Linked DNA regions of Homo sapiens. The protein of the gene in region 1 interacts with the protein of each later gene in a biochemical or structural test. Each region holds a gene or a part of one and is shown in the gene's direction. Other genes may lie near its edges.

What was found.
Region 2: the proteins of SLC22A4 (region 1) and PDZK1 form a complex in vitro, tested with the Homo sapiens proteins (one study listed by BioGRID).

Annotation. Positions count from the first base shown.
Region 1 is NC_000005.10:132,297,219-132,301,139, forward strand, and holds part of SLC22A4 (solute carrier family 22 member 4), read left to right. Parts: intron 1-3,921.
Region 2 is NC_000001.11:145,672,690-145,676,610, reverse strand, and holds part of PDZK1 (Na(+)/H(+) exchange regulatory cofactor NHE-RF3), read left to right. Parts: intron 1-397; coding exon of another isoform or gene 398-453; intron 454-2,284; coding exon of another isoform or gene 2,285-2,341; intron 2,342-2,729; coding exon 2,730-2,954; intron 2,955-3,590; coding exon 3,591-3,881; intron 3,882-3,921. UniProt on the Homo sapiens protein: A scaffold protein that connects plasma membrane proteins and regulatory components, regulating their surface expression in epithelial cells apical domains.

The DNA of each region.
Region 1 (3,921 bases):
AAGGCAGGAGAATCACTTCAACCTGGGAGGCGGAGGTTGCAGTGAGCTGAGATCACACCACAGCACTCCAGCCTGGGTGACAGAGCCAGACTGTGTCTCAAAACAAACAAACAAACAACAACAACAACAAAAAACTGGGCTCTGGTGGTTGGGAGGAGGAGGGAAGGAAGCAAGTACCAGGGTAAGCAGGATGGATGGATGGCTCTCCCCCAGAGGGGCGGCAGCACACAGAGTTCTGGAGTCAGACTCAGTAGAGGGCCAGTTTTGACTCCACTGCCAACCACCTGGCTGACTCCAGGCAGGTTACATCACTGATGAAAGCCTCAGTTTCCTTGTCTATAAATTGGGGGTACAAGCGATGAAAAGAGGCTCAACATCACTAATCACTAGGGAAATGCAAATGAAAATCATAAGGAGGTACCACTTTGTACCCTTAAAAATAGTTACTACAAAAAGAAAAAAAAAACACCCAGAAATCCACTTTGGGAGGCCGAGGCAGGAGGATTGCTAGGGGGCAGGAGTTCAAGACAGCACTGGGCAACATAGTAAGACCCCATCTCTACAAAAAATAAATAAAAAATTAGCCAGGCATGAGGGCATGTGACTGTAGTTCCAGCTTCTCAGGAGGCTGGGGCAGGAGGATCACTTGAGCCCAAGAGTTTGAGGTTGCAGTGAGCTATGACCATATCTCTGCACTCCAGCCTGGGTGACAGGGCAAGACCCCACCTCTAAAAAAGTGTTGTTGTTGTTTTTAAACACAGAAAATAACAAGTGTTAGTGAGGATGTAGAGAAATTGAAACCCTTGTTCATTCCTAGTGGGAGTGTAAAATGGTGCAGCCACTATGGAAAATAATGTGGTGGTCCCTAAAAAAATTAAAAATAGAATCACCATATGATCCAGCAATACTAATTCTGGATATATGTCTAAAATAATTGAAACAGGGTTTCAAAGAGATATTTGTACACCATGTCTATGGTAGCATTATTCACAATAGTCAAAAGGTGAAAGCAACCCAAGTGTCCTTCCACAGACAAATGGATAAACATAATGTGGTATATGCGTACAATGGACGATTATTCAGCTTTAAAAAGGAAGGACATGCTACAACGTGGATAAACCTTGAGGAGACTACGCTTAGTGAAATAAGCCAGTCACAAGACAAATTATTTTCTGATTTCACTACAGGAGTAGTCACACTCACAGAAGCAGAAAGTAAATGGTGGTTGCCAGGGACTGGAAGAAGGAAGGAGTAGGGAGTCGTTGTTTCATGGGTATAGAGTTTCAGTTTTGTAAGATGAAAGTAGTGTTGGAGATTGATTGCACAACAGTGTGAACGCTTCTGAACTGTACACTTAAAAATGGCTAAGATGGTAAACTGTATATTATGTGTACTTTATCTCAGTTTTCAAAATGGGGATAATAAGAGAAGCCACCTTATCTGAGTTGTTGGGAGGACTCAGTGAGATAATGCCCCATGCCCCATCCGGTGGTGGCCAGCACAGAGTGTGGCACCAGCAAAGAGTGTGGCACCAGCAAATGGGCTTCCTAGGTGGTGGTGAGGAGTGGTAAAGGCAGAAGCTCAGCACCTTCTTTGCCTTCTCCACTGGCTGGGGACAGTGGGCATGGTGGGAGCTGTTCTAAAGTCCAGGTTGTGGCCTGTGTAATAGGTGATGGGACTTGCTGGAGGCTGAGCCCCTCTCCCCACAGTGGCAGTTCCAAGCCTCAGAGAATAGAACACAAGTCCAAACCCATACTGACTTGGCCAGTGCCAGTGTACAGGGCCAAGCCCAGGGCCCCTGAGAAGGTTCTCTGCATCCCAGTTGGCACAACACAGGTAGTGGGACTGTCCTCAGATTGTGTCTTTGCCTTATACTGCCGTGCCAGGATCTCCCAATGGGCATATCTTTGGGGACAGACAAGTCTGCCTGAACTGCCCCCCAACACCTCTTCACAGGAGGACAGGGTTAGCCAGGAACCAAGGATGGCATGCTGTGCTGTAGAAATGCCTTTCATAGTATGCCAGGAGGTAGCAATAAGGTGTCTGAGTTGGGGTTTGCGTGAGTGCATTCGTCTGTGTGTGTACATGTGTATAAGGTAGTTTCCTTCTTCAGGGGTTGATTGTGAGGTCCAAGTTTTTCAACCTGTGCAGTTACTAAGAGTCAAATTATTTTTCGTTTTATTTTATTTTATTTTATTTTATTTTATTTTATTTTTTTGAGATGGAGTTTCTTTCTTCGTTCTTGTTGCCCAGGGTGGAGGAGTGCAATGGTGCCATCTCGGCTCACTGCAACCTCTGCCTCCTTGGTTCAAGCGATTCTCCTGCCTCAGCCTCCCGAGTAGCTGGGATTACAGGGGCCTGCTACCATGCCCGGCTAGTTTTTTGTTTGTTTGTTTGTTTGTTTTTTGTATTTTTAGTAGAGACAGGGTTTCACCATGTTGGCCAGGCTGGTCTCGAACTCCTGACCTAAGGTGATCCACCTGCCTCGGCCTCCCAAAGTGTTGGGATTACAGGCGTGAGCCACCGCGCCTGGCGATTATTTTTTAACTTTATTTTGAAATAACTTTTGATTTAGAGAGAAGTTTGAAAATAGTACAGAGATTTCACATATACCCTTCATCTAGCTTTCTCTGATGTTAACAATTTAAATACGCGTTATGCATTTATCCAAACCAGGAAATTAACATTGGTTACAATAGTAATAACTGAACTACAGACTTTGTTTGGATTTCACCAGTTTTTCTACTACTGCCCTTTTTCTATCGTAGGATCCCATCCAAAATCCCATGTTGTATTTAGTTGTCATGTCTCAGTCTCCAATCTGTGATTGTTCCTTAGTCTTTCCTTATCTTTCATGATCTTGACATTTTTATGAGTATTTTGATGAATGCTCCTCAGTTTGGGTTGGCATGATTTTTCTCACAATTAGATTGCGTTATGCACTTTTTGGTAATGATACCTTAGAAGTGATGCATTCTCTGGGCATCATACCAGTGGGTACATGATGCTGATGTGTCTTATTACTGGTGATGTTAACCTTGATCATTTGTCAAGTTGGTGTCTGTGGAATTTCTCTGCTGTAAAGGTACTATTTTTTCCTCTGTCACTAATAAATATCTTAAGGGAGGTTCTTCGAGATTATACAAAATCCTGTGTCTCCTCAAATTTTTATTCACTGATTTTAGCATTCATCACTAGGTCTTGACTGAAACAATTATTACTGCAGTTTGCCTAGTGATGATTTTGCATTTTCTGATTCCTTCAACATTTATTAATTGGAATTCTTCTGAGAAGAAGAGCTTCCCCTCCACATCTATTTATTAATGTATGCAATTGTTAACTTATATCAGTACAGGTTCATACATACTTATTTTATTTCATCAGTTATAAACTAATGCTATCCATCTTTATTTTGTTGCTCCAGTTATTCTAGCTCAAACCAAGTTATTTTTCACTTTAAGGATAGAGAATGTAGATATCCAGGGTAAGGGCCTTTATCTGTCTCTGCAGTCAGGGCTAGAGGAGTCTGTGTTTACCCCTGCGGGAGGAGTGCCAGTCACAGCTCGTTGCTAAGTTTTCCATCAGGCAGCAGTTGAGCAGGAACGCAAGCAGGGACTGGTGGGACCTGGGTTGGGACTGAAGCTTCTGTTGGGGAAGGAAGTGCCCCAAGCAACCCAGAGTGTCTGATGCTGGGGTCCTCATCCCTGAGACCTACTGCAGGGGTCAGATCTCAGTCTCCATGGGCATGGCCCTTCATATATAGCCCTCAGGGCCAAGACCTCAGAGAGAAGAGGCCCTGCGTGTGAGGAAACCCGGCAGCCTCCTGCCCTGAGGCTAAAGGAGCAGGAAGGGCAACAAATGCTCTGCTCTGGAGAGGGCCTAAGTTCATCTGCAGGGCCACAGGGCAAGCAGCAGAGGCAA
Region 2 (3,921 bases), on another chromosome or scaffold:
GGAATTACAGGTGCGCACCACCATGCCCAGCTAATTTTTTGTATTTTAGTAGTTTTACCATGTTGGCCAGGATGGTCTCGATCTCCTGACCTTGTGATCCGCCCGCCTCGGCCTCCCAAAGTGCTGGGATTACAGGTATAAGCCAACACGCCCGGGCCACACATTTTTTTTAAGGTGTCCTATGGGGCACAACAGGACCAGAGAAGCCATAGGGAGCTAGCTTTTGGCTTAAGAACCAACTGAAGCTGCCAGAAATGATGAGTCATTTTGCAGTTGGTGGAAAGTCAAGCAGAAATCAGAGGCGGCTGCTGCAGCTGTTTGTTGTAAAGGGGATTCTGACCCCTCCTGATCTTATCATAGAATGATTTAATTGTAATTTTTCTGTTTTGGTTAATAGAGAACTTTGATCGAAAAAGAAGCCTGCCCTCATCATCTCCTTCCCCGCTCTCCAAAGTAAGCCCTGTAGGTTGGGGTGGAGGGTAGATCTTTGAGATACATCAGTGAGTAAAACACAACCCTCTAGCAGTCCCTGGCACATACTAGACACCCAATTATCTGAATGAAGCATGAATAAAATCTCATTTTTTTTTTTTGAGACAGAGTCTCCCGCTGTTGTCCAAGCTGGAGTGCAATGGTATGTTCTCAGCTCACTGGAACCTCTGCCTCCCAGGTTCAAGTGAGTCTCCTGCCTCAGTCTCTCAAGTAGCTGGGACTACAGGTGTGTGCTACCACACCTGGCTAATTTTTATATTTTTAGTAGAGAATGAGGTTTCACCATTTTGGCCAGGCTGGTCTCGAACTCCTGACCTCAAGTGATCCGCCCACCTTGTACTCCCAAAGTGCTGGGATTTCAGGCATGAGCCACCAAGCCCGGCCAAAATCTCAAGTGTTTTAATGTTATTGCACTTTGCCTCGAGATGAGCTGCGACTGTCAGATACAGTTGATTTGCTTGTTTGGGTAGTGTTATCAGACGTATTTTTGCATGTAATGAGTCACCTGATAATTTTCCATATTTTAAAGAGAAAGGCTCCATTGTGGAACTGTTGCAAGTATATGACTGAAAGGTCTGAAGTTAGTTGAACTGGGTAACTAGGAGGTTCTGTGCTGGTGGTATTCTCACTTAGAAAGGAAGGAGATGTGGTCTTGTGGTTAGTAAGACACATGATAACCAGAGGACTAAAAATCTAATTTTAGTCAGGCTGCTAAACAGTGCGATTTGAAGTAGAGCCCACACTGTGCTCACCTTCCATTGCTTGATTTCCTACTCATCACCTAACAAATGTTCCGGACACGTGTGGGCAGCCATTTAGCTGCTGATCCAGGATCACACCATACCCAGGTCCACCCTTCTAATTGTCTCAACTAAAACAGCCAGTTAGGCTTGTAATTCTATTACAAAAAAATCAATCCTGTTTCCTGTTCTATGCCTCTTCGGTATTCAAGATCATCATTTCTTTACATGGATGGTCTGGGAGTTGATATGAATTAGGAGTATTTAAAGATGTTGGAGAGTTTGGCATAATAGAAGTGACAGCTAATGCTTACAACAATACATAGCAAAATAAATAAGCACAGATCCCAGGTCTGGAAGGGGAGGGTATTGGCAAGCAGCAAAGGGTTGGAATTAACTTTTGTTACAATATGTGACCATATAACAGCTGTCACCCTCTCACCAATTATTCCTGTGTATATGGGTTGGTCTCTTCTAGTAGCTTTGAATCTTTGGATAGTGATAAAAATAGTGTTATATTAACATTCTCCAGAGAGACAGATCTAGTAGGATATAGATACAGGTATGAGAGGAGATTAATTAGGGGAATTGGCTTGTATGATTATGGAGGCTGAGAAGCCCCACGACAGGCTGTCTTCAAGCTTGAGACCCTGGGATGCCAGTAGTGTGGCTCCGTCCAAATCTGACTGAGCCACATTACTGGCATCACCCCTGATTGGCAGTCCTACTTGTTTGCTTCTGTGCATTTGGCCTGAGAATCTGGGGGGCTGCGGCTGTAGATCTTAGAGTCCAAAGGCCGGAGAACCAGGAATTCTGATGTCCAAGCACAGGAGAGGAAGAGGGTATCCCAGCTCTAGCAGACAGACTGACACCTTTGCCTTTTCTGTAGTTCACTCAGACTCGCATGCTAATCCCCTCTGGAACCACCTTCACAGACACACACCAAAATAATGCTTTGCCGGGCTTCTAGGTATTCCTTAATCCAGTCAAGTTGGCATCTAAAATTAACTATCACAAGTGTCTTGTGTTTTACTTTTTCTAATGTGTTTAAGGAGCTCTGAAGACCATCTTACCGAAAGGAAAAGCCAGAAGAATGTACTCTGCATGAGGTACCGGCTAGTCGGTCAGATATGTCATTTCCCAACAGGGAGATTATGTATAGCTTGTTCAGTGACTTGCTCACTATCATGAACTCACTCAAAAGAAACTAGCAATTTTTTAGACTTCTTTTGGGATCCTTGTACCGCATCCTATACTGCTTTTATGTTCATGTGTGCATTTGTGTACATGTATACACATATTACTCCATAACGAAGCACAGTCTTCTTTTATACCTTTCCTGGTTGGGGTAGTAGAGGAATTTTACAGCCTACAATCAGACACATCCAGAAGAAGAGTGGAATATGTATGATACCTTAAAAATCAGCACATTTAACAAAGTATAACTTACTCATGGTTACAACTAAGTTAATGTTTTTTCCCTTTATTTTTCAAAAGGCTCATTTTTCTCCATTTCTCTACTATCAAAGTCAAGAACTGCCCAATGGCTCTGTCAAGGAGGCTCCAGCTCCTACTCCCACTTCTCTGGAAGTCTCAAGTCCACCAGATACTACAGAGGAAGTAGATCATAAGCCTAAACTCTGCAGGCTGGCTAAAGGTGAAAATGGCTATGGCTTTCACTTAAATGCGATTCGGGGTCTGCCAGGCTCATTCATCAAAGAGGTATGGTAATCTGGTTCCAGCAGCCCAACAAACACAGCCACAATTAGGATAGTCTCAGCTTTTCCCACCCATTGATGGCTTAGTAGAGAGGTTCCATTGAAGGCACACACTGAGGGGTCTCACTTGGGTTCAGATAAATGTTGTCATGGTCCCACACCCTTTAGGTTAGCTACCAGTACATCATAAGCTCACGTTTGTTTGTTTCCCAAACATCTGTTCCAAACAGTGTGAGTTGACTGAACTCTAGTTGACAGTCACTATCAACCCTGATTGGCAGTCATATTTGTTTGCTTCTGTGCATTTGGCATAATGCCCCTTACCCTGTAGGGACTGATAAGAATCCCTAAAGCTTTCAAGTTGGGAGTGAAGAAGGGGGACCTATTTATCCCCCTTCATCCCAGAAGACATATGATGCTGAACCACTATTTATAATACCACTAATCATGTGAATATGGAAGTTATAGCCTTCATAAATATAAAAGCATTAGAACACCTTTCTCAACTTCTATACCTCAAGGAGAAATAATAACATGATTAAAAATAAATTCTTGAGCTCCTCATCTATTCTCTTAAGGAGAGCTAGTCTGATGTCCCCTTCTCTGTTTGAAATTGATAACTCAGAACTTCTGTTCACAGGTACAGAAGGGCGGTCCTGCTGACTTGGCTGGGCTAGAGGATGAGGATGTCATCATTGAAGTGAATGGGGTGAATGTGCTAGATGAACCCTATGAGAAGGTGGTGGATAGAATCCAGAGCAGTGGGAAGAATGTCACACTTCTAGTCTGTGGAAAGAAGGCCTATGATTATTTCCAAGCTAAGAAAATCCCTATTGTTTCCTCCCTGGCTGATCCACTTGACACCCCTCCAGATTCTAAAGAAGGAATAGTGGTGGAGTCAAACCATGACTCGCACATGGCAAAAGAACGGGTGAGTGGGGGCCTATTTCTTTTCGTGATCTAATTTACTA